Homo sapiens: one gene and its partners. The protein of the gene in region 4 interacts with the protein of the main gene of each other region in a pairwise test. Each region holds a gene or a part of one and is shown on either strand. Other genes may lie near its edges. The genes, in order: PEX26, NDUFV2, DGLUCY and MSRB2.

Evidence for each region.
Region 1: the proteins of MSRB2 (region 4) and PEX26 interact in binary tests that used the Homo sapiens proteins (3 or more experiments, as listed by UniProt).
Region 2: the proteins of MSRB2 (region 4) and NDUFV2 interact in binary tests that used the Homo sapiens proteins (3 or more experiments, as listed by UniProt).
Region 3: the proteins of MSRB2 (region 4) and DGLUCY interact in binary tests that used the Homo sapiens proteins (3 or more experiments, as listed by UniProt).

The regions. Positions count from the first base shown.
Region 1 is NC_000022.11:18,087,986-18,095,020, forward strand, and holds part of PEX26 (peroxisome assembly protein 26), read left to right. Parts: coding exon 1-90; 3' UTR 91-7,035. UniProt on the Homo sapiens protein: Peroxisomal docking factor that anchors PEX1 and PEX6 to peroxisome membranes. PEX26 is therefore required for the formation of the PEX1-PEX6 AAA ATPase complex, a complex that mediates the extraction of the PEX5 receptor from peroxisomal membrane.
Region 2 is NC_000018.10:9,105,674-9,112,708, forward strand, and holds part of NDUFV2 (NADH dehydrogenase [ubiquinone] flavoprotein 2, mitochondrial precursor), read left to right. Parts: intron 1-6,364; exon of another isoform or gene 6,365-7,035.
Region 3 is NC_000014.9:91,222,056-91,226,150, reverse strand, and holds the end of DGLUCY (D-glutamate cyclase, mitochondrial isoform b precursor), read right to left. Parts: intron 1,468-4,095; coding exon 1,318-1,467; 3' UTR 519-1,317; downstream 1-518. UniProt on the Homo sapiens protein: D-glutamate cyclase that converts D-glutamate to 5-oxo-D-proline.
Region 4 is NC_000010.11:23,112,568-23,119,602, reverse strand, and holds part of MSRB2 (methionine-R-sulfoxide reductase B2, mitochondrial precursor), read right to left. Parts: intron 558-7,035; coding exon of another isoform or gene 428-557; exon of another isoform or gene 300-427; coding exon 152-299; intron 1-151. UniProt on the Homo sapiens protein: Methionine-sulfoxide reductase that specifically reduces methionine (R)-sulfoxide back to methionine.

The DNA of each region.
Region 1 (7,035 bases), on a different chromosome or scaffold from region 4:
CTGCACTTCCTCTACAAGCTGGCCCAGCTCTTCCGCTGGATCCGGAAGGCTGCATTTTCTCGCCTCTACCAGCTCCGCATCCGTGACTGAGGGTCCCTGCGCACCACAGCCTCTCTGCTCCTCACGTCCGTGGCCACAGAAGCAGAGCGACAGAGCGACACATCCACAGGCGCCCCTGGGGAAATGGGACCAGCCTAATCTCGCGGAGTGCACTGTGTCTTGCTGCCTGGGTGCCCTCTCCTTTGCACCCTACTTCGGCTGGTCGCGGTAGATGATGTGGAAACAAAGCAGGACCAGCAGGCACAGCACCTCCAGAACAGTGCCCCGGATGACCAGAGGCCCCTTGAAAAGGAGGGGTTTGGGGACAGGGACTGTGTCCATGAAACATTCCATCTTCTTGGTGAAGGCAAGGGGTTGGTTCTTCAGGTCAGGATGTTAATGGAGCTGGAAGTTCAGAAAAAGCCTGGTGAAGTGACCCTTGGCCTTTCACTTCTTGAGAAACATACTTCTTTGCTGGGCATGGTGACTCACGCCTGTAATCCCAGCACTTTGGAAGGGTGAGGTGGGTGGATCACTTGTGGCCAGGAGTTCAAAACCTGCCTGGCCAACATGGTGAAACCCCATCTCTACTAAAAATACAAAAATTAGCTAGATGTGGTGCACGCCTATAGTCCTAGCTACTTGGGAGGCTGAGGCAGGAGAATCACTTGAGCCAGGGAGGCAAAAGTTGCAGTGAGCTGAGATTGTGCTACCGCACTCTCTCAAAACAAACAAAAAAACATGCCCCACAGGACAGTACCTTAATTAGCTAGAGTAGATCTGAGAGGGCCTCTTCTTGCCTGCACTGTGCTCCCCAGAGCTGATCTAATTCTGTATCAATAGGCTGTTCCCATGGTCTTGCCATGCGCTTGAAGCTGCAGGAGCCTTCTCACTGTTCAGGCTGGGGTGTGGTTTTCAGAACCACCGGGTTGACTACTGAAAACCAAGTGAGCCTTACAGCTCTTATCGCTGGGTAAAGTGATCTTGCCTGGTGCCTCTTGGTCTTCAGCTCAATTTTCCAGGTTGTCCTGGCCAAGTCTTGCTCTGTTACGCTCAGTGCCTCTGCCCACTCTTTCCCCGCCAGCCCTTCCCTCCCGCCCTGCAAACTTGTCCCTTGGCTGTTTCACCAGGTTCTGCCTGTATCCTTGCCTCCTTGGTACACACCATTTCAGGTTCTTCCCTTTCTGTGTCCCATTGTCCTAGTTATGTTCTGTTGTTTGTGTAATGCCCAAATTTTTCTGCTCGTGTGGCCTTGAAAAGTAGGCCAGCCTCAGAGGCTGCTGAGCTGAAAATGGAACTGAGTAATCAGGTGAGCTGGAAGGGATGTGGGGGGCGGGGCAGACGGGAGACATGGGTTTTGAAGGCAGTGAACAATAAAACCTTAGGGAGGTGGCACCGAGGCCTTAGCATTTGAGGAGCTGAAATGTTTCAGTGTTGTTTTCTCACCAGCCACAAGCATCTTATGAGTTTCTGTGCAAGGAAGCGTAGAGCACTGCTGTGCTGTCAGGATGAAGAAGGGCTTTCTGCAGGGGCTGGCCTTTCTCTACCCAGAGGCCAAGCAGGCTGCCCTGCACTGTGTCCTTGGTGTTGATGCCCAAAATAGAGAAGGTGCTTGCTAGCTTTTCCTTGGTACATTTTCGGGGGTTGCAAGGCAACAAGTTTTCTTTTGTTTTGTTTGTTTGTTTGTTTGTTTGTTTTTGAGATGGAGTCTCTGTCACCCAGGCTGGAGTGCAGTGGCGTGATCTCAGCTCACTGCAAGCTCCGCCTCCCGGGTTCATGCCATTCTCCTGCCTCAGCCTCCCGAGTAGCTGGGACTACAGGTGCCCACCACCTCGCCTGGCTAATATTTTTGTATTTTTAGTAGAGTCTGGGTTTCACTGTGTTAGCCGGGATGGTCTCGATCTCCTGAACTTGTGATCCACCCACCTAGGCCTCCCAAAGTGCTGGGATTACAGGTGTGAGCCATCGCGCCCGGCCAACTTTTCTTTAGAAAAATGAGTAAAGTAGGTAAACTTCACAGGCCCCTTAGAATTAAATCCTTAGGGCATGGTTCAAGTCTGTAGGAAGCAAATCTATACTTTTTTATATGGGCTTTTAAGTAAAGCTTAGAACCCTGGGGGGAGAAAAGCAGTCAGGTGAGGTTTGAGATTCCTTCTATAGAATGATTTCTTAAAATGAAAATCTGGGCCCACTTAACTACCCTAGATAAAACGCTTCAATGGCTTCCCATGGCTCACTGGATAACATCTAAATTCTTCATGGAATTGAAGGCCCCTATGTGCTGGTTTTGGCTAAGATCTCCCCTTTGATGTGGGTCCCCTGTTGATTATATGTGCGGCCTTCCAGCTGCCCACCATCACAGCTACAGCTCGCTCCCCTTGGCCTCTGTGCCTTGGCTCGCACTGTTCCTACTGAAGGCCTAGCACCTGCTCTTGGCCTGGTGAGCCCCTCCACCTTCCAGGCTTACTCAAAGAATTCTTTCTGCCCCTCCCTGTGTCCCGGGACCTGTTTCATATCGCTTCTGTGGTCGTGACCCCATGGTCTTGTAATTGTGAACTTCTTTGCTGCCCCTTCGAAGCTGGGGAGTGCTTGTTGCAGATGCATCCAAGAGGGGTAATTGCGTATCAACAGTGGATTTGCTGGTTGTTTCTACAGGGTTCTGAAGCATGCAACATAGAACAGATACCTTTAAATTTAGGGGCGCTAAGGAAAGCAGGAACCAGTAATCCTCTTCTGTGGTGGGATGGGAGGGTGGGGGAGAGGGGTGGAATGGAGAGGAAACAGGCTATTGTTGGCCAGCCCTGGGTGGAGGTGGGTGCAAGCAGGACAGATAGTGCCTGGGGGTGGGGGCGGAGGGTTCGCCTCTAGGAAGGGGCTAGAAGGGATGAGGAAATAGTTCATAGCTTCGTGCAGGTGATCCCTATTCTGCGTGTATGTGTTTGCACATGAGTGTTTGTAGACCATAGACCATTAAAAAATACGGAATTCAAAAGTTACAAAAAGGGTATTCTTGGAAAAGAAAGTTGTTTTTTTTTAGTCTTGCTGTGTTGCCCAGGCTGGACCTGAACTCCTGGGCTTGAGCAAGTCTTCCCCTCAGCCTCTGGAGTAGCTGGGCCTACAGTGTGTGCTGCCACACCCAGCTAATACAGTCTTTCTACTCCCGCTCTCTATTCCCCAGTTTCTTGCCCAGAGGCAACCCTTGCCAGTCTGTTTATCCCTCCAGATACAGTCTCTGATAGTAAACTTTTCTTTCTCTTACACAAATGATAGTAGTCACATACACTACACACACTGTGCCACGTTTAAAAAGAAAAAAAACAATTCTCGGCTGGGCGCGGTGGCGCATGCCTGTAATCCCAGCACTTTGGGAGGCCAAGGTGGGTGAATCACCTGAAGTCAGGAGTTCGAGATCAGCATGGCCAACATGGTGAAACCCCATCTCTACTAAAAATACAAAAAAAAAATGAGCCGGGCATGGTGGTGGGTACCTGTAATCCCAGCTACTCAGGAGGCTGAGGCAGGAGAATCACTTGAACCCGGGAGGCAAGGGTTGCAGTGAGCTGAGATCGCGCCATTGCACTCCCACCTGGGCAACAAAGAGTGAAACTTGGTCTCAGAAACGAAACAAAACACAAAAACCTTTCTCAGTCCCAGCATATGTGGAGCAGCCTCATTCTTCATAGCTGTGTGTCATTCCGTTGCGTGATGGGGTCACAGAGCACAGACCTGGTGCCCTTTTCCTTTTTAATATGTGGAAACCCCTCCATGCTTTCCAAAGCCTACAAGTACAGCAGCCCCAAGTTTAGGGTGAGCAGCAGTGGTCAGAGCTCTTTACTATTACTTTTGGGCAAACGCAAGCCAGGCTGGCAACCACCACTGCCGCCGAGGGGAGATACAAGCAGGCCAGTTCACACTCTGGACGTTCAGTTTCTTTCTACATCTAGAAGGTGGCCTCTGCTATCCACTTAAAGCAGCCCAAGGAACTGTCAGAAAGCGAAAGTGATGACATGAACCGCGAGTAGGGCACCTCCCTGTGCCGTCGTCTGCTTTCCTTCCTCCCTCCCAGCCTCCCTGTGCCGTCCTCTGCTTTCCTCCCTCCCAGCACGGAAAAGCCGTGGGGCCGATGGACTTTGGCCTCACATCCACAGATGGGGCCTGTGGGAATTCTACTGATTTACTCTCTGGCCTAGTCAAGCAACCCACCCACGGCCTGGCCAAGGTCGGCCTCACCGCCCTGGCCTAGCACCTTTGGAAACTGAATACATGGAGTGTTAACCAGAAAAATGTCTGGCCCTTTTGCCTCGCTGCCTCTGGAAACCTCAGTGTTTCGGGCTGGTAGGAAGCTACAGGACAGACAGTGGGCACGGTGCCTAGCAGCCTGTCGCGCCCCCGCCCGCCTCTGCATTCCTCCAGCGGTGGTGTACGGATCCAGACATTGTTTGCCACCTCTAGGCCTCTTGATAAAACAGCAAGTATTTTTCTTGTCTTAAAGCAATGCATGTATATTTTAGAAAATATTAATTGCATAGAAGGAAATACAGGACTCGTGATCCCACCACTCAGAAATAATTACTATTAATACGGTTGATTTTCTTTCAGCTTTTTTCCCCCTAATTAATTAACTAATTCTTTTTTTTCCTGCAACTCCTGCTTCACAGACTTTTTTTTTTTTTTTAACTTGGCATGGTGGCTCACACCTATAATCCCAGCACTTTGGGAGGCCAGAGTGGGAGGATTGCTTGAGCCTAGGAGTTCAAAGCTAGCCTGGGCAACCTAGTGGGACCCCATTTCTTTTTTTTGGGGGGGGGGTGGGTTATAAAAGCCCTTTTATAAAGCCAATTTTAAACAAGAAAAAAACAAAAAGTTTACAAAAGAAAAAAAGATACAGAAAAAGAATAACTTGCTTCATATGTCCCAAAAAGAGAAAAAAATAAACGGGACAATGCCAACATGCTCAACAATAAAGGGTTCTTTTTCTTACTTTTTTAATACAAAATACAAGCAAAGGATACACATACTTAAAACAGAGCTCAGGAGCAGACACGCAGTCCTGGGAACCCTTCAATAAGAGCAAAGCAGGAGTTTGTTTTTTCTTTGTGCAGATACATACAGAGACTGGGATATGTAAAAATTAAGTATCACAAAAGACCATCACACGATTCTACCAATGCATGTTGCATCTATAATTCACGAACATGGTCAACAAGATCATGTTCACTTCAACCCCATTTCATTTAAATTAAAGAAAAAAACCTGGCCGGGCGCGGTGGCTCACGCCTGTAATCCCAGCACCTTGGGAAGCCGAGGCAGGTGGATCACGAGGTCAGGAGATCGAGACCATCCTGGCTAACACGGTGAAATCCCATCTCTACTAAAAAAATACAAAAAATTAGCCGGGCGTGGTGGCGGGTGCCTGTAGCCCCAGCTACTCGGGAGGCTGAGGCAGAAGAATGGCGTGAACCCAGGAGGCGGAGCTTGCAGTGAGCCTAGATGGCGCCACTGCACTCCAGCCTGGGGGACAGAGCAAGACTCCGTCTTAAAAAAAAAAAAAACAAAAATAAACCTTTTAAATAAAGTGGTTACATTCTAACTTTAACTTCCTTAGTACCATGCTGCAGGTTTCAGCACTGTTAAGGTATTGCAAGAATGCCCAACCCTCTGGTGTCTGATTGTGTATCTAGCAACATTGCAGTATGAAGAAAAGAGATGCCCCGGGTACGACCCCATTTCTATTAAAAATAAATGTAAACACCCAACCCTCTTGGCAGCCCATGCACTTGAGAACCTGTAGAAAATGGCAGTGTGCAACCAGCATGGCTGCGAGCTCAGCGTCTTCACTAGAGAGAGTGGAGGTGGTTAGGAAAGGGCAGGCGGGAAGGGGCCATGTTGGCCGGACAACTGCAGGTGAAGATGGGATTGTGAAGTACAGTCCAAGGCCCACTCACCAAGGGCTGGATCCAAATATGTGGGGTTGGGATTCTGTGACCTACTTCCAATTTTAATATTGACCTGAGCTCATATTTAGCTCTACATGTTTCCCAGCTCGTATTTTCCAACAGCCCCTTTAAAACTTTTAGCATCCTCTTGTCACTTTTGTACTATCCAAGGTGGGACGGACAGGTGTCAGATAATAGCAGAGACTTGGTGAAGAAATGAAAGCACTTTTGTAGAAGAGTGTCATTTCAGAAAAAAGCCTTTTTTTTTTGAGATGGAGTCTCGCTCTGTCACCCAGGCTGGAATGCAGTGGCGTGATCTCAGCTCACTGCAAGCTCCGCCTCCTGGGTTCACACCATTCTCCTGCCTCAGCCTCCCGAGTGGCTGGGACTATAGGCGCCCGCCACCACGCCTGGCTAATTTTTTGGTATTTTTAGTAGAGACTGGGTTTCACCGTGTTAGCCAGGATGGTCTCGATCTCCTGACCTCGTGATCCGCCTCCCACAGTGCTGGGATTACAGGCGTGAGCCACGGCACCTGGAGAGAAAAAAGCTTCTTTAATGACGACCTCAACATAATTTACATGGAGAAGTTTCTTAGGTGGAAAACCGATTTGTATGGTCCTCAGAATGTAACCTACAGGTTCTTGCCCTCAGAAAAATGCATGCATACTTTTATGTTACAGGCTTATTTTCCAAATGCGGTAGAGGGCCATCCCTTCTTTGGCTTCTTGCCTTGTCTCTGACCCCACTGACTGCCCCTTTTCTGCCTCCATAGCTAGTTTCTTATTTTCCTTTGGCTTTTTTTTTCTTTTCTTTTCTTTTCTTCTTTTTTTTTTTGAGATGGAATCTTGCTCTTGTCACCTAGGCTGGAGTGCAGTGGTGCGATCTCGGCTCACTGCACCCTCCTCTTGGGTTCAAGCCAGCGAGGTAGATATTATCATTTTAGAGACAGCAAAACAGACTCAGAGGGGCTAATGTGCCCAGTGCCCCACCGCTTTTAAATGGTAGAGCTGGGATTTGAATCTAGGCATACAGGTACCAGGATTTCTGTTCTTATCTC
Region 2 (7,035 bases), on a different chromosome or scaffold from region 4:
TATGTAAATTTCAGTTTACAGTGGGGTTATCTGGACTTAATCGAGGAGCATGCTGAATACTTATCATTTTCATACAGTTGTAAAGTTGGGAATTTGCAAGACAGGCAATTGTAAGTCAGCGACCCATCTGTATTGTGTATTTTTTCATTCATCGAGGATATTTTCCTTTATGTCTTTAGGCATGATTATAGCTGTCCTGAAGTTTGTGTCTGGTAATCTTAGTTGATTTTTTTCTTGAAAATGTGTTTTCCTTTTTTGTTTGTTTCCCATATGTTGAACAATTTTGGATTGTATGCTGAATTTTGTGAATGATACGTTGTAGAGGCTCTAGATCCTGTTTTATTCCTCCAAATAGTGTGTTTTGTTGTTGCTATCCATATCCCTTGTGGGCAGCAGATCAAATATTGGTTCCGTTCTTTTAGCTAGGCTCCTTGGAGTCTGCAGCATGTACATGCATGGTTCAGGGTTCAGCCAGAGATTTCCGTAGAATTTATATACAGAATGTATAGGGCTCCCTCCCCCTTTCTGGCTCTTCCTTTTCTAGGATTTCCCACTTTACCATGTCTGTTGTTCCAAACTCTCACTGAGGCCTGCCTTCAGGCTAAAAGATGTGAAGAAAAAACAAAAACCTCATTGGTTTTTTATGAATGTAGACTCCCCTTCTGTGTCTGCCTGTTTGGTTGTTCCCCAGTGCCTTCAGAAAGCTTTTGTTTTTATAAAATATTTTGTCCAGAGTTTATAGTTATTATTCAGTGGTTTGCCCTGACAGTGTCTACTTAGCCATACTAGAAGTATGCCATCTTGTGTGGTGGTACTTTTCCTTCCAAATTTTAAGTTTTGTACAATGAAATGTTTTCCCCATTCCATTAGAGATTCTTAAACTTGATTTTGTAATGTCCCAGTGTATCTCCATTGTGACTCAAAGGACTCTAAAGAAGTTAATGTAGGAAAAACACCCCAAAACATTTAGTTTTTTATTCCTGCTGTAACAAATTTCCACAAAACTTTGTGGCATAAAACATTATATTTTTAACCTTACAGTTCTGTAGGTTAAAAGTGACACAGGTCTCAGTGGGCTAAAATTAAAGTGTAGCCCGAGCTTCATTCCTTTTTGGAGGCTCTAGAGGTGAATGTCTTTTCTTGGCTTTTCCAGCTTCTAGAGGCTGCTCTTGGCCCCTTCTTTCATCTCCAAAGCCAGCAAAGGCAAGTCTAGTTCTTATATCACATCACTTCGACCCTCCTGGCATTCATCACATATCCTTCCTTGCCTCTTGGTAAGAACCCTGTGATTGATGACATTGGGCCCACCTAGATAATCCAGGATAATCTCCCTATTTTAAGGTCGGCTGATTAGCAGCCTTAATTCTCTTTTGTTGTGTAAACTAATACTCACAGGTTTCCAGGATTAGGATGTGGTTATCTTTGAGAGACCATTATTCTGCCTGCCATAGCCATAAATTAGCAGTTTAAGGAGAGAGAGAATGAACAAACTTTAGTTTATGCAGTGAGGTTCAGTAGGCCACTATTGCAAACTGCAGACTCGGATCTTTTTATTAGAGACTTGAACTCAGTTTCCATTTCAAAGTAATAAAAAGTTGACTTTCCTTTCTCTTTGGGCACTGTTTAGTACCTTAGTGCTCAGAACATTGAGTAATAAATTACAGGTCTGTTGCCCATGCTGTATAACCTATTGAGTGACAGTCAGTCTGATTTTCCAATGAGGAACCTTGTCACTAGTTTTTGAATCAGTTCAGGAAGCATGTTATAAATCAGTTGTAGGAAATGTCTTTCATTACAAAACATCAAAGACAGTTTACACACATTTTGGTTAGGGGGAAGGTGGCTTTATCTGTCGGATATTTTGCTAGGTGTTACCCCATTTTATGTGTGAGATATATGAAGATTGCTGGACAAATAAATGCCCAAGATCACACAGTAGTAAGGGCTGGGTTTATTCGCAAGTCCTGTTTTGTTTTGTTTTTAATCTACCTTTCTGAAGTTGCTCAAACAATTGAAGTTGCTAAGGGAAATCACTATGTATGGTGAAGATTTAAATTTAATAGGCACTCTAATAATAAAAGGTGTACCAGTGTAAGCAGACTAGGGAAATGATTTCACTTTGCTTAGGGAAAAGAGATGGAGGTTTAGGGGCTTTAAAGGGGTAGGAGATGGAGGTTTAGGGGCTTTAAAGGGGTAAGAGGAGGAGGTTAACCTTGGTCATGATGGATGAGTGGAAGGTGTAAGTTGAGATAATGCTGTAGGTATAGCTAGCTACATATACAAAGACACTGAAGTGCATGAGGTGAGACTGAACCCCGGGTCCACTGGATGGGCATTTCATTTCTATAAATTATTCTTGTCCTTAGAACAATTGGTTGTTGCTTATATCCATGTGGGATTTTAGATATCTAAAGAATGTTTTCTTTAATATATGGTCAAGATGGCTGGAATCATTAATGCTGTTATCTTAATCTGTAATGCACAGTGCCTGTAATACCTGGGCTCTTCATGCAGCTTTTCTATAATATAAAATTTAGCCAAATTACATTTGTTAATTCTCTCATAGTATGGTAAAAATTACTTACATTTTAACCTGAATTAACATTTTTAGGTAAATTACTGATGGAACTTTATTTGGAGGATGTTTGTAAAAGTCCTCCTATTTCTATCTGAAAATACAGCAAAACTTAAATTTTAGTGGTTAAGGCATGTACTGAAGTCAGGAAAATCTGTATGTGGCATTTCATTTATTTAGCTGTGTGAGCTAGGGAAAGTTTTTCCCCCTTCTTTGAGCCTTAATTTTCTCACCTGTAAAACAAGATAATAATACCTACTTGGTAGGCTTGCTGAGAGGAATAAATGGATTATAGTGTAGATTTGTAGTTTATAGCATGAGATCTGACATAGAGTAAGCATTTGTATTTATGATTATCCTTGAAATAGATTTCACAATTATTAACCCAGCATCAACTTTGTTAAAATAAAATGCACTGAAAAACTTTTGTTTTTCATGGAATTTTTTTTTTTTTTTTTTTGAGACAGAGTCTTACTCTGTTGCCCAGGCTGGAGTTCAGTGGCGTGATTTTGGCTCACTGCAACCTCTGCCTCCCGGGTTCAAGCGATTCTCCTGCCTCAGCCTCCCAAGTAGCTGGGATTAAAGGTGCGTGCCACCACACCCGGCTAATTTTTGTACTTTTAGTAGAGATGGGGTTTCACCATGTTGGCTAGGCTGGTCTCAAACTCCTGACCTCCAGTGATCCACCTGCCTCGGCTCTCAAAGTGCTGGGATTACAGGCATGAGCCACTGCACCCAGCCTCAAGGATTTTTTTTAAATGTAAAATTACCTAGTCTGAATGAATGTATTGCAGACCCTGACTTTTTTAGGAGGTTTCAGTTTTCTTGCTTGAGCTGGCAATAGGGGAGGCTGTAGGTAACAAGTCAGCAGATGTTGTGAACAGTGAGAGGAAGGCACGGAGGGACCTCAGACCACTTTGGATTCACTAGAGATGTTTCATGTGTGCACTGTGACTCTTGCACAGGCAAATAGATATCTTGGTGGATTTAATCTGTAAATATTAGGGATCATCTAAAAGGTATATTCCTTGCCTTAGTTGGCCTCTAATAAAGGAAAAAAGAAGGGTTTTTGAATTGCCTGACCTTAGTCTTGTCTTTCTGACTAATTAGATTACTGCTTCTGTCAGTTTTGTCTTACAGCTTCTTAGTCTCTTATTAACTTCTCTTAGCTGGATGCATTTATAATGCAAATGTCTGATAGAACTGAAAAGTGAGCTTCGTTGGATGGTAGTATTGTTTGAACAACAGAAGAAATTCAGAAAAAGAGTAGAGCCCATGAAAAGACAATTAAGGAATCCTATTGGGGAGAATATAAAACTTTAATTTTTGTCATTTTGAGCTATTGGTATTGCCAGTGACAGTAAAAGGGAAAGGCTGGTAGAAAGAGCACAGGGCCCTTAGATTGAAAGAGCCTGGGCTCAAAATCCAGGTCTGTCACTAATTGTGCGGTATGGGGCAAGTTACTGTCTTTGAGCCTGAGTTTCTCTAAATGTAAAATGGAAATAATGACTCACTACAGATTTTTTAGGAATCGACGAAAAAAAGTATGTAGAAGAGCTTAACACAGAGGCACTCAAGTTTACTTGACTCCAACGAAAAGGCAGTCACTGTTTTGGCCTGCTTAAATCTTTTCTTTTCCTTCTGAAACACTGAAAAAAAAATAAGCTAGAATTCAAACCCACTGTTAATTTTGAGCTGTATATTAGGTTATGATCTTATTTACTTAAAAAAGTTACTTGGTTGCATGCTTTTCTTCTTAAAAAAAGGAAGTTACTTGGATTTTCAATTGGACTCAATTGGAATTTCTTGAGGTATAGACATTTCAGAGTCTAATGAGAAGCTAGATTCTAGAGAAAAGACTAGACTGTACTCAAAGAAGGGGGTGGGTGGGAACTCAGCTTATTCTTTGAATCATTCCAGCCTAGCTAGGTTGTTTTTTCCAGTTTTAAGCCTGGTCCTGGAATGCCTCTTTATTTCAAAGTGAAACAAAATTGAAATGGCCCAGTAAGTAGTGTAAAGATGTTAATGAGAACTTTTAATGTTTTATTCCTTTATTGAAAGTGTCTGACGTAGACATTACAATGAATGTAAAATAGGTGATATTCTTTAAACACACCAAAAAAACAATTTTCAAAGCCATTTTCAGGCCACCTGTAACTTGATAGGGATGAATAACAGTTTATGCCAGTTGAAAAAAACCGAGAGCTAAGATTTATCAGTTTATCTTCACTATTTAGTTTGTTTCTTTCTTTATTGTTTGTTTACTTACTACTTTTTTGAGACAGGGTCTCACTCTGTCTCCCAGGCTTGGGTGCAGTGCATGATCATGGCTCGCTGCAACCTCAACCTCTTGGGCGCAAGCGATGCTCCCACCTCAGCCTCTCAAGTGGCTGGGACTACAGGCATGTGCCACCATGCCTGGCTAACTTTTGTATTTTTTGTAGAGACAGGGTTTCACCATGTTGCCCACGCTGATATCAAACCCCTGGCTTCAAGCGATCTATGGGGCTTGGCTTTCCAAAGTTCTGGGATTATGGGTGTGAGCCACCGTGTCTGGCCAGCTTCTTTTATTTTATAAACATTATCTCAGCCCTTCTTATACAACTTTGAAGAGGTCGACTTCGGACTTTGAAATTAAGTTGCTCAAATGTTATGCTAGTGTGTATACGTTCAGGTTTTTTGCAGGAATAGAAGAGAAGGGTGGCAAGGATTAAAAAAAGATTAAATAACTTGCATCTTTCTCTCTTAACAGGAGCATTGTAAGCCAAGGAGGCAGGGCTTTTCATTTCTTATCTGCCTGCCTGTATATATGGAGGCCTGATTTTCTTCCTTAAACTCCTTGGTTTCTTAGACCTACTATGTTCTTTTAAAGCTTTGATGTCATCAAACAGTCAGGTGGCTAATAATAAGGTCATGGCCTTTGTAATCATCTGGCCCTAGGATCTAACATAATTTCTGCCAATAATTAGTGATGTGACCTAACCTTGAGAAGTTTTCATAACTCATTTAAATTTCTGGGAATAATACCCACCTTGCAGGAAACTTTAAGAATTAAATAATGTGTAAAAAGCTTAGTGCCTGACACATAGTACTTCTAATAATAATAGCTAATGATAGCCAACACTAATACAGTACTTACCATCTGCCAAGCAGAATATTAAGCACTTTACATGAAGTACATCTTTTTTTTTTCCCCCCGAGACAGAGTCTCACTCTGTTGCCCAGGCTGGAGTGCTGTGGCACGAGCTGGGCTCACTGCAACCTCTGCATCCTGAGTTCAAGCGATTCTCCTGCCTCAGCCTCCTGGTTAGCTGGGATTACAGGCACGTGCCACCACGCCCAGCTAATTTTTGTATTTTTAGTAGGGATGGGGTCTCATCATGTTGGCTAGGCTGGTCTCGAACTCATGACCTCAGGTGATCCGTCCGCCTCAGCCTCCTAAAGTGATGGGATTACAGGCATGAGCTACTGTGCCCGGCCTGAAGTACATCTTTTAATGCTCTCAAGAACCCTATGAAGTACATGCCGTTATTTTTCTGTTTTTATAAATGAGGAAACAGGCTCTAGAGCTGAGCTTTTAGCCATTTTGCTATATTGTCTCTCCATACATAGGATATTTATGGAATATTAGATAACAGTGATACATCCCACCTTCAGAGGTGCTAGAATGTGGAAAATGTGTTTATTAGAAATGATGAAATTGACATTTCATATACTAGAACGTGTTTGGTGTTGGTCATCTTTTACACCACACTCAGCATCAGAAGGGTTTTTTTTTTTTTTTTTTTGATAGAGAATCTCGCTCTGTCGCCCAGGCAGGAATGCAGTGGCTCGATCTCAGCTCACTGCAACCTCCACCTCCTGGGTTCAAGCAATTCTCCTGTCTCAGCCTCCCAAGTAGCTGGGACTACAGGTGTGCGCCACCACACGCGGTGAATTTTTGTATTTTTAGTAGAGATGGGGTTTCACCATATTGGCCAGGCTGATCTCGAACTCCTGACTTTGTGATCTGCCCACCTTGGCCTCCCAAAGTGCTGGGTTTACAGACGTGAGCCACTGCGCCTGGCCAGAAGGATGGTACTTTTAAAATTAGTTTGGTGATATTAGACAGGATGTTTTGGATTGAGAAAAAGGGATCAGCCAGAAGACTTACAGTAATGCACAGACATGAAATAATGTCTGAAATAGTGGTGATAGTAAGACAGGGAAAGAACTAAAGACTTCATTGGGTTTTTTTGTTTGTTTTTGTTTTGAGACAGGGTCTCACTTTGTCACCCAGACTGGAGTGCAGTGGTGTGATCTCAGCTCACTGCAACCTTCACCTCCCAGGTTCAGGCGATTCTCCCACCTCAGCCTCCTGAGTAGCTGGGACTACAGGTGTGCGCCACCACACCCGGCCAATTTTTGTATTTTTTGGTAGAGATGCAGTTTCACCACGTTGGCCAGGCTGGTCTTGAACT
Region 3 (4,095 bases), on a different chromosome or scaffold from region 4:
GACCGGCCTGCTAGCCCATGCTCCGATGTTGATGACATCGAAGGCACCCCTCCCGAGGAAATCTCAACTGCACAACCCCTACTACGCCCCAATTCAGCAGGAAGCAGTTAGAGCAGTTGTCAGCCAACCTCCCCAACAGCACTTGGGTTTTCCTGTTGAGAGGGGGTACTGAGAGACAGGACTAGCTGGATTTCCTAGGCCAACTAAGAATCCCTAAGCCTAGCTGGGAAGGTGACCACATCCACCTTTAAACACAGGGCTTGCAACTTAGCTCACACCCGACCAATCAGAGAGCTCACTAAAATGCTAATTAGGCAAAAACAGGAGGTAAAGAAATAGCCAATCATCTATCGCCTGAGAGCACAGCAGGAGGGACAATGATCGGGATATAAACCCAGGCATTCGAGCCAGCAATGGCTACCCTCTTTGGGTCCCCTCCCTTTGTATGGGAGCTCAGTTTTCACTCTATTAAATCTTGCAACTGCAAAAACAAACAAACAAAAAAAAAGACTTTCACCTTTTCACTTAAAGGAAGCCCTTTATGGCCTCTTTTTGGCATATCCAAATTGCCAGCATCTCTGCTCTTGCACTTTGAGGACATTACTGAGTCACATAAGAGGTTCTTGAATATAAGCACTGCAATACCATGACAGTCGATCTGATCACCTGCTGGGTGACTGGCAGGCGGGTGGTGTAGACAGCACGGGTACCCTGGACAAAGGGAGGATTCACGTCCTAGGTAGGATGGAGCAGGATGGTGTGAGATTTCATCACGATATTCCGAAGAGTACACAATTTAAAACTTAAGAGTTGTTTATTTCTGAAATTTTTCATTTAGTATTTTCGGTCTGCAGTTGGCTATGAGTAACTGAAACCATGAGTAACAGAAACCATGGATGGGGGAGGATGACTGGAGTCTGGAGTATCCTATCCTACATGGCCTGGGAATGTTTGTTCTCATGCTCTGCCTGGCAGTTAATTGTTCACAAGTGTCCCCATAAGTAACTGTCGAGAAGATTCTCACAGGAGACCACGTGGGTTGCCTGAAGAAGCCAGAGTGAAGGAGGGTTGAAATCAACGCCTTTAGAGTCTTAGGAATAAAAGTTAAAAAGCCCCAGAGAAATGTTGTCCTTTGTCCACAGCACCTGCACTAACCCCTCCCAGAAAGTGGGCATGCAGTTTCCCAGGCCAGGCGAGTGTTCGTTGCTCACCGAAGACCAGTGTTTACTAGCAGGATTGTCGCCAGAAGCAGCTGCATTCTCCCCGGATGCAGACCTGCCCGTTGGTAGGGACTCTGCTCACACGGAACATGGACGGTTACACCTGTGCCGTGGTGACGTCCACCAGCTTCTGGATCATCTCGGCGTGGGTGTTGTGGAAGGGCAGCCCATCCACCTCCATGCCCACGATGCCCGAGACGCCACTCCGGACTTTGTGCTGCACCAAGATGCCCAGCATTTTTTCTTCCTGGAAAAAAATAGGGCAGAAATAGAAGGAGTGGAGGGGGAGGAAAAAGAAATTTCTTTTATACACATTTATAAGTGAGAAGGATCCTTTGCCTTGACATACTTGCTTTTTAAAAAAGTAAAATTTTGGTTTAAAGTACTAATACCATTGGAAAAGTCATGAAAAGTAAGTGTCCTCCATCACAGCTCATTGGCCCCCAAATCTACTCCCCAGAAACAATCACGGGAATAGTTTGGGCTGCTTCTTTTGGTAGTTACTGTTATGTAACTAAATAATATGCTTTAATGGAAACATAGTTTCTTAGTTTGATTGTCCGTTTTTAGAGATGGGGTCTTGCTATGTTGCCCAGACTGGTATTGAACTCCTGGCCTCAAGTGATTCTTCTGTCTCAGTCTCCTGACTAGCTGGGACTATAGGTGCACATCACTGTGCCCGGCCAGCCTGCATTTCCTTAACCAACACTGAAGATTCACTCCTCCTGCAGGTGCAGTGCAGGCTATTTCCTGCCAATAAGTTCCTCCCAGCCCTGGATTATCTGCCAATAGTCTTTGTGCCAAAGGCCCCCATTTCTCCTGAGACCTCTTAGCCTAATGTGGGGCATGTGTCAAATCCTGCTGCTGTTGCCTTCTAGAAATGACCAGGGTGACTGTGGGAGTGGGAGCATCTAGGTGTAGCAGAGTCACAGAGAATACAAGCCCCCATCCTGAAGCCGCAGCCCGGGGCCTAGCAGGCAGAGTGGTTTGGGGATCAGAAAGGTCTGACTTGAGTCTTTCCTGGCAGGAATTTTAACTGTTCTGTGCCTTAGTGTGCTTATCTGTAAAATGGGGAGGGTGATGATAAAAGTACTCATCATGCCTCCTTTAGAGGGTTGTTCTGAGGATTACGTACAAGCAAAGCACTTAGCAGGGTCCTTGGCACACAACAGGCATTCACAAAATGAGGTTGATTTTATTGGCAGGGCTAGGTCTTCTGGCCTTTAGCCTAGAGCTTTCTCCCTTTGCTCTCCTGCTGGTTAAAAAAAAAAAAAGTGGTTTGATCCTCCTCCATCCCCCCTCCTTCCAAAAATAAAATCCCAAAGCACCACTTGCCCAAGCCACTAATGTGTCTGTCCCTAGTGAACAGCTCAGGTTCCCCTAAGGACAGTGAGCCTTAAGTGAAGGCATAAAGCAACTCAAACACATCCTTCCCTCTTCTTCTTCTTCCTCCTCCTCCTCTTCCTTCTCCCTGTCTTCTTCCTCCTCCACAACAAAGGCAGGAGGTGAGAGGAGGGGACCTAAGGAATCTAGAATAGGACATTAGGGCGGCTATAAGAAGGCTCTCTCCCTGCTCAGGCATTTGCTCATTCATCCCACCATTGATCAAAGGTTTATTGAACACCTGCTAAGTATGTGTCAGGCCCTGAACCAGGGATACAGTGGTGAATGTGACATGGTTCCTGCCCCCATGGGGTTCACAGTCTAGATGAGTAATCAGGTAGTCATAGTACAGGATGTCACAGCACAGAGCAGGGGCACCCAACCCAGCTTATTGGCATGGTTCAGGGAACATTTTCTGGAGGCAGGGTGTTATGGACTCAATATGTACCCTCAAATTTTGTATGTTGAACCTAATCCTCAATTGTTGGAATTTGAAAGTGGGGTCTTTGGGAGGTAATAAGATTGAGATGAGGTCATGAGTGAGGGTCAGGATGTGAAGTGCTCTTATAAGAAAAAGAGAAACCAGAGCTCTCGCTCTCTCCACCACATGCGGACTCAGCAAGAAGGCGGCCATCTGTAAGCCAGGAAGAGAGTCCCCACCAGTGAATCAAAACTACTGGCACCTTGATGTTGGACTTCCCAATCTCTAGAACTGTGAGAACTAAATTTCTGTTGTTCAAGCCACCTAGTCTATAGTTGTTTTTTAAAATAGCAGCTTGAGCTACGACAAGGGGCAACTAGGATCAGAGGTGATGAAAGAATAAAAATGAGCCAGCTGAGAGCCCTGGAGGGTCACTCACTAACTTTTTCTAAGTAATAGAGAAAGCATTGGCAAATGTTAACTGCAAACTGTCTCTTCACAGCTGGCCTGAGAGCCTGCATTTCTGTTCTGCCCTGGGGGCCAAGAAGGATGTTCCTCTGTAGGAGGGAGGCCCTAAATTGTTTCCACTTTCACATGTGTCCTTTGTCCAACAGCTCCTTCTCAGGAGCTACCCACTCAGAATGGCATTTCCCGCCCTTTGTTTGGGCTTCTTCCTCTCGCTTCTCTTCTCCACTGGTCATATCCTCTCTTTATGGGGGAATGTTTCTGGGACTCCTGGGGCCATTTCCTCACAGCACACTGTTTCCCTCACCATTCTCATCCTTCTGGGCCCCAGGAAGGGCTGTGGGGTCCTCAGGGTGCACGCAATCAGCCAACAGGTTTCGAGCTGACTGGCACCCAGCCTCCAAGAGACACAGGGACCAGCTGGGCCAACAGCTACTCCCTGCAAATTTCCAAGAATCACGGAATGACCATGCCATCTTCTAAGAGGCAGAGGTGGTAACAGTGGCAGAGAATTACCAGGGAGCAGCTGGAGGGCAGGGCGCCTGAAGGCCACTGCACCAGTCCAGGCTGAGACAACAGGGCAGGAGAGGAGGAATGGAGGACCCA
Region 4 (7,035 bases):
AAACAAAGCAAAACAAAAAAGAAACCCCATGTGTTCTGAAGACAAAAGAAAGTACCCCTATAAAAGGACACCAGATTTGCCAAGAACAAGAGAGCTCTTTGTGGCATTGGGGGCAGCATCAGGGAAAGTAAAACAAAATGAGAAACCTCACCTGCTTGCAGACAACCTCTGTGCGAGCTGATCCTAACGAGGTATCCAGACGTCTCAGGATCCCTGTGTGGCTTTCATCAGAGCCAGACGTACCATGAGCCTCGGAAAACGAAGGCCACCCAGTGCCAGAGCAGTACTTTTTCTCAGAACTGTGGAAGACATAAACGATACTACAGCTGCTAATGACACTGTCATTAACATGCCAAGAGGTGCCCCGATGTGTTGTTCCAGGCAGCAGGATCTGTTCCCACTCTCCTCTGCCAGATCCCATGCCCAGTTATTCGACAGTCAGTCCCCCCGGAATCGTCCTCACTGCACCTTCACTATCGAAGCCATTGCCTCTCGAAGTGGAAGGACTTCTTGATCCTTTGATGCTAAAGACTTCTTTCTGGATATCCAACAAGGATCTAAAAACACATGGTGTTTTGTGAACTGTGTTGCATATTAGGTAACACAGATCAAACCCATGTGTTGAAAATGTCAAAAGGGGAGAAATCAAAACGAAATACTAATGCTCGGAGGAAGTCATCATCATCTTAGAGCAGCGCAGAAGTGTAAGGTCTGATGAGAAAGTCATGCTTGGCAACAGGAATTTCAGGTTATCTCAACACAGACGCCTGACCAGGGATTCAAAAGCTGCCTCTGGCCACTTCTTAGCTGTGTGAAACCACAGCTCTTGAAGCCTCAGTTTGCTCACCTAGCAAATGGGAATAATATCTACCCTACAGGGCTGTTTTGAGGATTTGAGGGGAAACTGAAGTGTGACATAAAGCTTAGCACGGTGCTGGGCACATGGTAAGTTCCCTGAATGCTTGCTGTGATGGTGATGATTAGTATTAATTAATACGCCTGGGTACCTGGCATCAATCACTGCAGTGAAACCTAACCCTCCAGAAGTCTCCCAGGGACTCATGATGCTGGCACAAGGAGAAGGACAGCAGGCAAATCCACTCACCAAAGACCCACCCTCTAAGTGCTCTCATGGATAAGCTCCCTTAAATGGCACTGGGAAAATAGACTTCAAAAATTGCTGTGGCAAGGAAATGGCTCTCTCTATCTAAGGAAGAAAGAGAAGAACTGAATGTTAGACCCAGCCAAAAAAAAAAAAAAAAAAACAAAAAACTAATCTAAGAAGAAAAAGTAGCAAAGAATCAAATCCCTAGACTATGAACACAGAAGGAAGCCTAGCTGGCAGCACAAACTCCCACAGAAACAATTGTGTAATGCAGCAATTCTCAAACATTTTGGTCTCGGCACCCCTCATGTCCCCTCTGTGTCCCCAAAATTAATAGGGATTGCTGAGAGCTTTTGTCTGTGAGTTACGTATGTCAACATTTAACAAATTATACATTATAAATGAGAATTTAAAAATATGTGTGCATTAATTTTTTTTTAATATAGGTTGAGTGCCCCTTATCTGAAATGCTTAGGACCAGAAGTGTTTCGGATTTCAGATCTTTTTGAATTTTGCATTTTACTTGATGGCTAAGCATCCTTAATCTGCAATACTCCAGTGAGCATTTCCTTTGACTAGCATGTTGGTTCTCAAAAAGTTTCGAATTTTGCTGGCGTGGTGGCCCACGCCTATAATCCCAGCTTTTTAGGAGGTGGAAGCGGGTGGATCACTTGAGCTCAGGAGTTCGAGACCAGCCTGGCCAACATGGTGAAACCCCCTCTCTACTAAAAATAGAAAAACTAGCTGGGCATGGTGGTGCATGCCTGTAGTCCTAGCTACTTGGGAGGCTGAGGCAGGAGAATAACTTGACCCCAGGAAGCAGTGGTTGCAGTGAGTGGAGATCAGTCAACAGAGCGAGACTCTGTCTCAAAAAATAAAAAAGTTTCAGATTTGGGTGCATTTCAGATTTCGAATTTTCAGAGTAGAGATGCTCAACCTGAAATAAATTTATTATATGTTAACATAACATATATTTAAGGCAAATAATTATACTTTTCAAAATGAAACAAACATTTCATGAGAAGAGTTGCACTGTTTTACAATTTTGCAAGGCTCTTTAACATCCGGCTTAAAAAAAAGACAACTGAATCTTCATATGTGCCTCTGAATTCAGTCTGTTGCTATGTTGTTTTGATTGGAGTATAAGAGGATGTGGCCTCAAGTGGTCTCAAGTGTGGTTGGAAAAGCCCCTAGAAAGGTCCCCCCCAGGAATCTCTGGGGTCCTCAGACCAGGCTTTAAGAACCACAGGTATAGCCATTAGAGGAAGGGCTTTGACTTCTGAAAGATTTGTGTGTGAATCTGGGATCTGTCTGTTACATCTGTATCACCTTGGCAAGTCATTTAATTTTTTGAAGCCTCAGCATCCTAGTCTATAGATAAGTATAAACTAAAAATAAAGTTCTAAGCCACCCACTGACTGAATAGAGCCCTTCTTGGCCAAGAGGACTCCAGAAAAACCTTTAAATCGAGTTTCCGGTCATGATGGGACAGGAGGTCAGACACACCTCATTATACCCTCTCCCTTTTGTGGTTTAGACACAACAAATGACCAGCATTAATGTTTAAATAGAGATCATAAGACTGGCAGAACAGCCTCTTTGTGGCAATAATATACCAAATTATAAACAGGACCTAAGGCCATGCCAGGCGAGGGTGAAGTCATGCACCCCTACACTTAAAGAATCAACTCTAACTGCCACAGGGGTTTTCTTCTTCTCTAGCAGCTAAACAATCACTGGCCTTGAGATAAGCAGTGTTGAAGCAATTGCAGCTCATCTACCATCAGACACTGACTAGCTGAGACCCTCTGTTCCACCAGCCGTAACTACAGCTTTGATTGCACAAGAGACTGATTTTAGTAACTTTCTCCTGATTAAAAGACCATGAAGTGGTTCTGGATGGTTTACAGAGGCTGTGCACTTGTGGGCCTTCATATCCTGAAAGACCTTTTGATGTATAGGATCTAATTATAATACATTTAAATGTTAAGTTTCTACCCCCAAATAAACATAGGTCATATGTTACATGCATGTTTGTTCAATATGTGTATGTCAGGACCATCTTCACAAATTTTCATAGCCCCTTCTGTGATCTGTTAAATAGGTATATTTAGCCAACCCTCTCAGCATAAAGCTCCTACCCCAGCTGCTCCCCCTTCCAAGTGCCTGCATCTGCTCTTGGCTGGGAGCTCGCTTCCCAGCCTGTAGGATGGCCACCTTGAAGGCTGTAACCCTTTAGAAGAAATAAAGTCTCCTTTTCTAAATTTATAGATTGTATGATTGTTTTAAGCTAACAATAGCAATGGCATTATCACCTCACTTTCTGTGTGTGTGCTTAGCATAGTACCTGACACATGGCACTTGAGTTGGTAGCTATTTTTTAATATTTTTTTATTATTAATACCAGAAATCTATGGAATGTGAGCAGTTGTGGGTCCAACTAGAAATGTCTGCATATTCAGGTCGGATTCTTTGCAACCCTCCTCCAGGGGTTCAAAAACATTCATCTGGCCACTCTGCTCAGGGAAAAACATCATTAAGTATCTTTTAATCCCAGTCTTTCCATCCTCAACATTATATATCAACTAGTGATCATTAAAGGTATTTTGATTGAGAATTATGAATACAATAAAATTTTTTAAATAAATGAAACTAAGGCTAATAAAAACTCATTAAAGCATTTTATGGGAAACAATAAACCTTTATTGATGCAATTAGCAGAATCGGGAGATTTTTACCAAGTAATATGAGAGGCCTAACATATATAAGTTAAGACTGGGAACCAAAATATTAAAGCCAATCAGAAATTCCAATATACATATTTAAGTGATTAGCAGATTGTAAGGTTTGCCCTTGAAGAACTAAAACCATTCTGAATCATATACTCTAAGGGATTTTTACTTTGTTTCGTTTTATTTGCTTTGGTTTTCCTTGATTTCTGGAAGTTCTACAGGTCCCAAACCAACAGCACAGGCACTTGGTGATAACTGACAACCCTAACCTCTTAGAAGAATTTCTATTCCTTTGAGGGAATGGGGCATACAGAAGGTTTTTAACAATATTACTTAGTTACTCATGGTACATACGACATCAGGATATTACGTAAAAGGTGAACTAGTATCAGGCTCTGTTTCCTCTTATTTTAAGAAGATTTGTGATCATGAAATATGTGATCCCACAATAGATTTTAATAAACACATTCCAAATAGGCTCATGTAGAAGAAGAAAGGGAGAAGGAGGAGAGGAAGTGGCAGTGATGGGCAATGTCACTTCATTCCGAGTTAAGGAAAGAGAGTCTGGAGTCCCTAGGAGTGTGACAACACATTCTGGAAAGTGTTCTTGACCCAGACACCTTTGATTAAAGGTGTCTGATTTGGAGAGGCAGAAGCTCTCCAAAACTGTGCACCAAACTCATTCCAACAATTATAGGATGATGAGGAGAATGACGCTAAGTCTGGTGGATGAGGCTGGGAACAAGGCTCTGGAAAGGGAACTCATGAGTTACACTGGCTGGGATCACTCTCAGAGGCTGGTTATGTCTTCTGGGAAACTTACACCTGTAATAAGGAAAGCAGGCACCAAAAGGCGATGGCACCTATGTCAACGGAGCTGCCCGTGTGGCTTAATGGAAGCTCAGCTAGTGAAGAATGTGGGCTCTGGAGTCCAAAACTGTGGGTTCATATTTTGGCTGGCTACCTGTAAGCTGCAGAACCCTGGACAAGTTATTTCATCTTCCTAGCTCTCAGTTTCCTCACGTGAAATGAGAATGATAATAACACTACGGGGAGCTGCCGAGAGGTCTGACGAAACGATGCACATGAAGAGCCTGGGCATGGCACCTGCCGCGTGCCCAGAGGGCTCCTTCATTGCTGGGGTGCTTCCCACTCTCAAGAAGAGTGCAGTGGAGCCCAAATCCCTGCACTATCACTTACTAGACAAGTGACCTGGAACAAGTTAGTTAAATTCTTTAAGCCTCAGTTTTCACATCTGTTAAGTGAGGGTCTTAATAGCTCCTTATTGGAGGGTGAGGATTGTTTGCAAAGTACTAGAGCCCAGTGTCTGGCATGTAAGTGCTCAAGAAGTTGCAGCCACTTCCCTCACATTTTCACAGTGATTTCATAATCACAGCTTTTTTTTTTTTTTTTTTTGAGATGGAGTCTCACTCTGTCACTCAGGCTGGAGTGCAGTGGCTCAATCTCAGCTCAATGAAACCTCTACCTCCTGGGTTCAAGCAATTCTCCTACCTCAGCCTCCTTAGTAGCTGGGATTACAGGCATGTGCTACCACGCCCAACTAGTTTTTGTATTTTTAGTAGAGACAGGATTTTGCTATACTGGTCAGGCTGGTCTCGAACTCCTGACCTGCAGTGATCCACCCGCCTTGGCCTCCCAAAGTGCTGGGATTACAGGCATGAGTCACCACGTTCAGCCCGTAACCACAGCTTCTGATAGTCCCAACATTGCTATGATGTCTAAGCAGCAGGATGGATATTATTAATCAACCAATCAATACGTACTTATGGAGCATCTAAGTATTAGTTTCCAAGGTGGCTGTAACAAAGTACCACAAAATGGGTGGTACTCTCTCACAATCTTGAAGATAGAAGTCCAAAGTCAAGGTGTCCACAGGGCTCTGAAGCATCTAGGGAATCCCTCCTTGCCTCTTCCTACCTTCTAAGGTAGGCAGTCTTCGGTTTGTAGCTGCGGATCACCAATCTCTGCTTCCGTTTTCACATGGCTGTCTCCTCTCTGTCTGGGCTTCTCTTCTTCTTATAAGGACAGCAGTGATTTTGGAATTAGGGCTGACCCTACTCCAATATGATCTTATCTAAACTAATTATACCTGCAGCCACCCTATTTCCAAATAAGGTCACATTCCCAGCTTACAGGGATTAAGACTTCAACATGTCTTTTTGGGAGACACAATTCATCCCATAACAACTTCCATGAGCCTTGTCCAAGAAGCATAAGATGGCCAAGGGACTCGAAAGCTAATCAAGTTTATCTCCTTAACTAAATAAAATACTTGATCCAATAGGAGAATAATTAGGTCCTAAATTGTGTGATACTGATAAATTAATAGGAATTTGAAGCAGATTAAAAAAAAACCCATGGTGTGTGCTATCAGAGAAGGTTTCAGGAGAAATCTGGGATCCAAAAATAAGTGGAATTTCAATTAGTATTAGTGGGGCTGAGCAGATCCCAGGAGGCCAGCTCAGCATGAAGGGAAGTCCCAGGCAGGAAGCAGCCAAGCTGGAGCAGGGAGCTCAAAGGAGTGAGCCCTGCATTTACTTGTTAAAAGAACTACTTAGTTTTGGTTGACCAACTTTCCCTTCACTTTCACTCCACACAAGCATTTGAAGGAATTATTTTTTCTGTACCTCTGCTTCCTACTATAGAGACTGGAGACCAGAGACAGAAAGAGAAGGAAAATGAGAGGCAAAACCAGAATATATTTCTAAAACTCCTCTTGAACAGGAAGAAGTCTCAGGAATATAGTCTGCATTTGTATGTTCTCATTAATTAGAATATATCCTCCAGAATTCCTCAGGATCAAAAGCGCATTCATGTATACAGCCCTAAGAGGGATCTATTGCTTAAGAACACATCATTACGCCCGGGTGCGCTGGCTCACGCCTGTAATCCCAGCACTTTGGGAGGCCAAAGCGGGTGGATCACCTGAGGTCAGGAGATCAAGACCATCCTGGCTAACATGGTGAAACCCCGTCTCTACTAATAATACAAAAAATTAGCCAGGCATGGTGGCACACGCCTGTAATCCCAGCTACTCAGGAGGCAGGAGAATCGCTTCAACCTGGAAGGCAGAGGTTGCAGTGAGCCGAGATCGCGCCACTGCACTCCAGCCTGGGCGACAGAGCGAGACTCCATCTCAAAAAACAAAACAAAACAACAAAAACATCATTACTAACT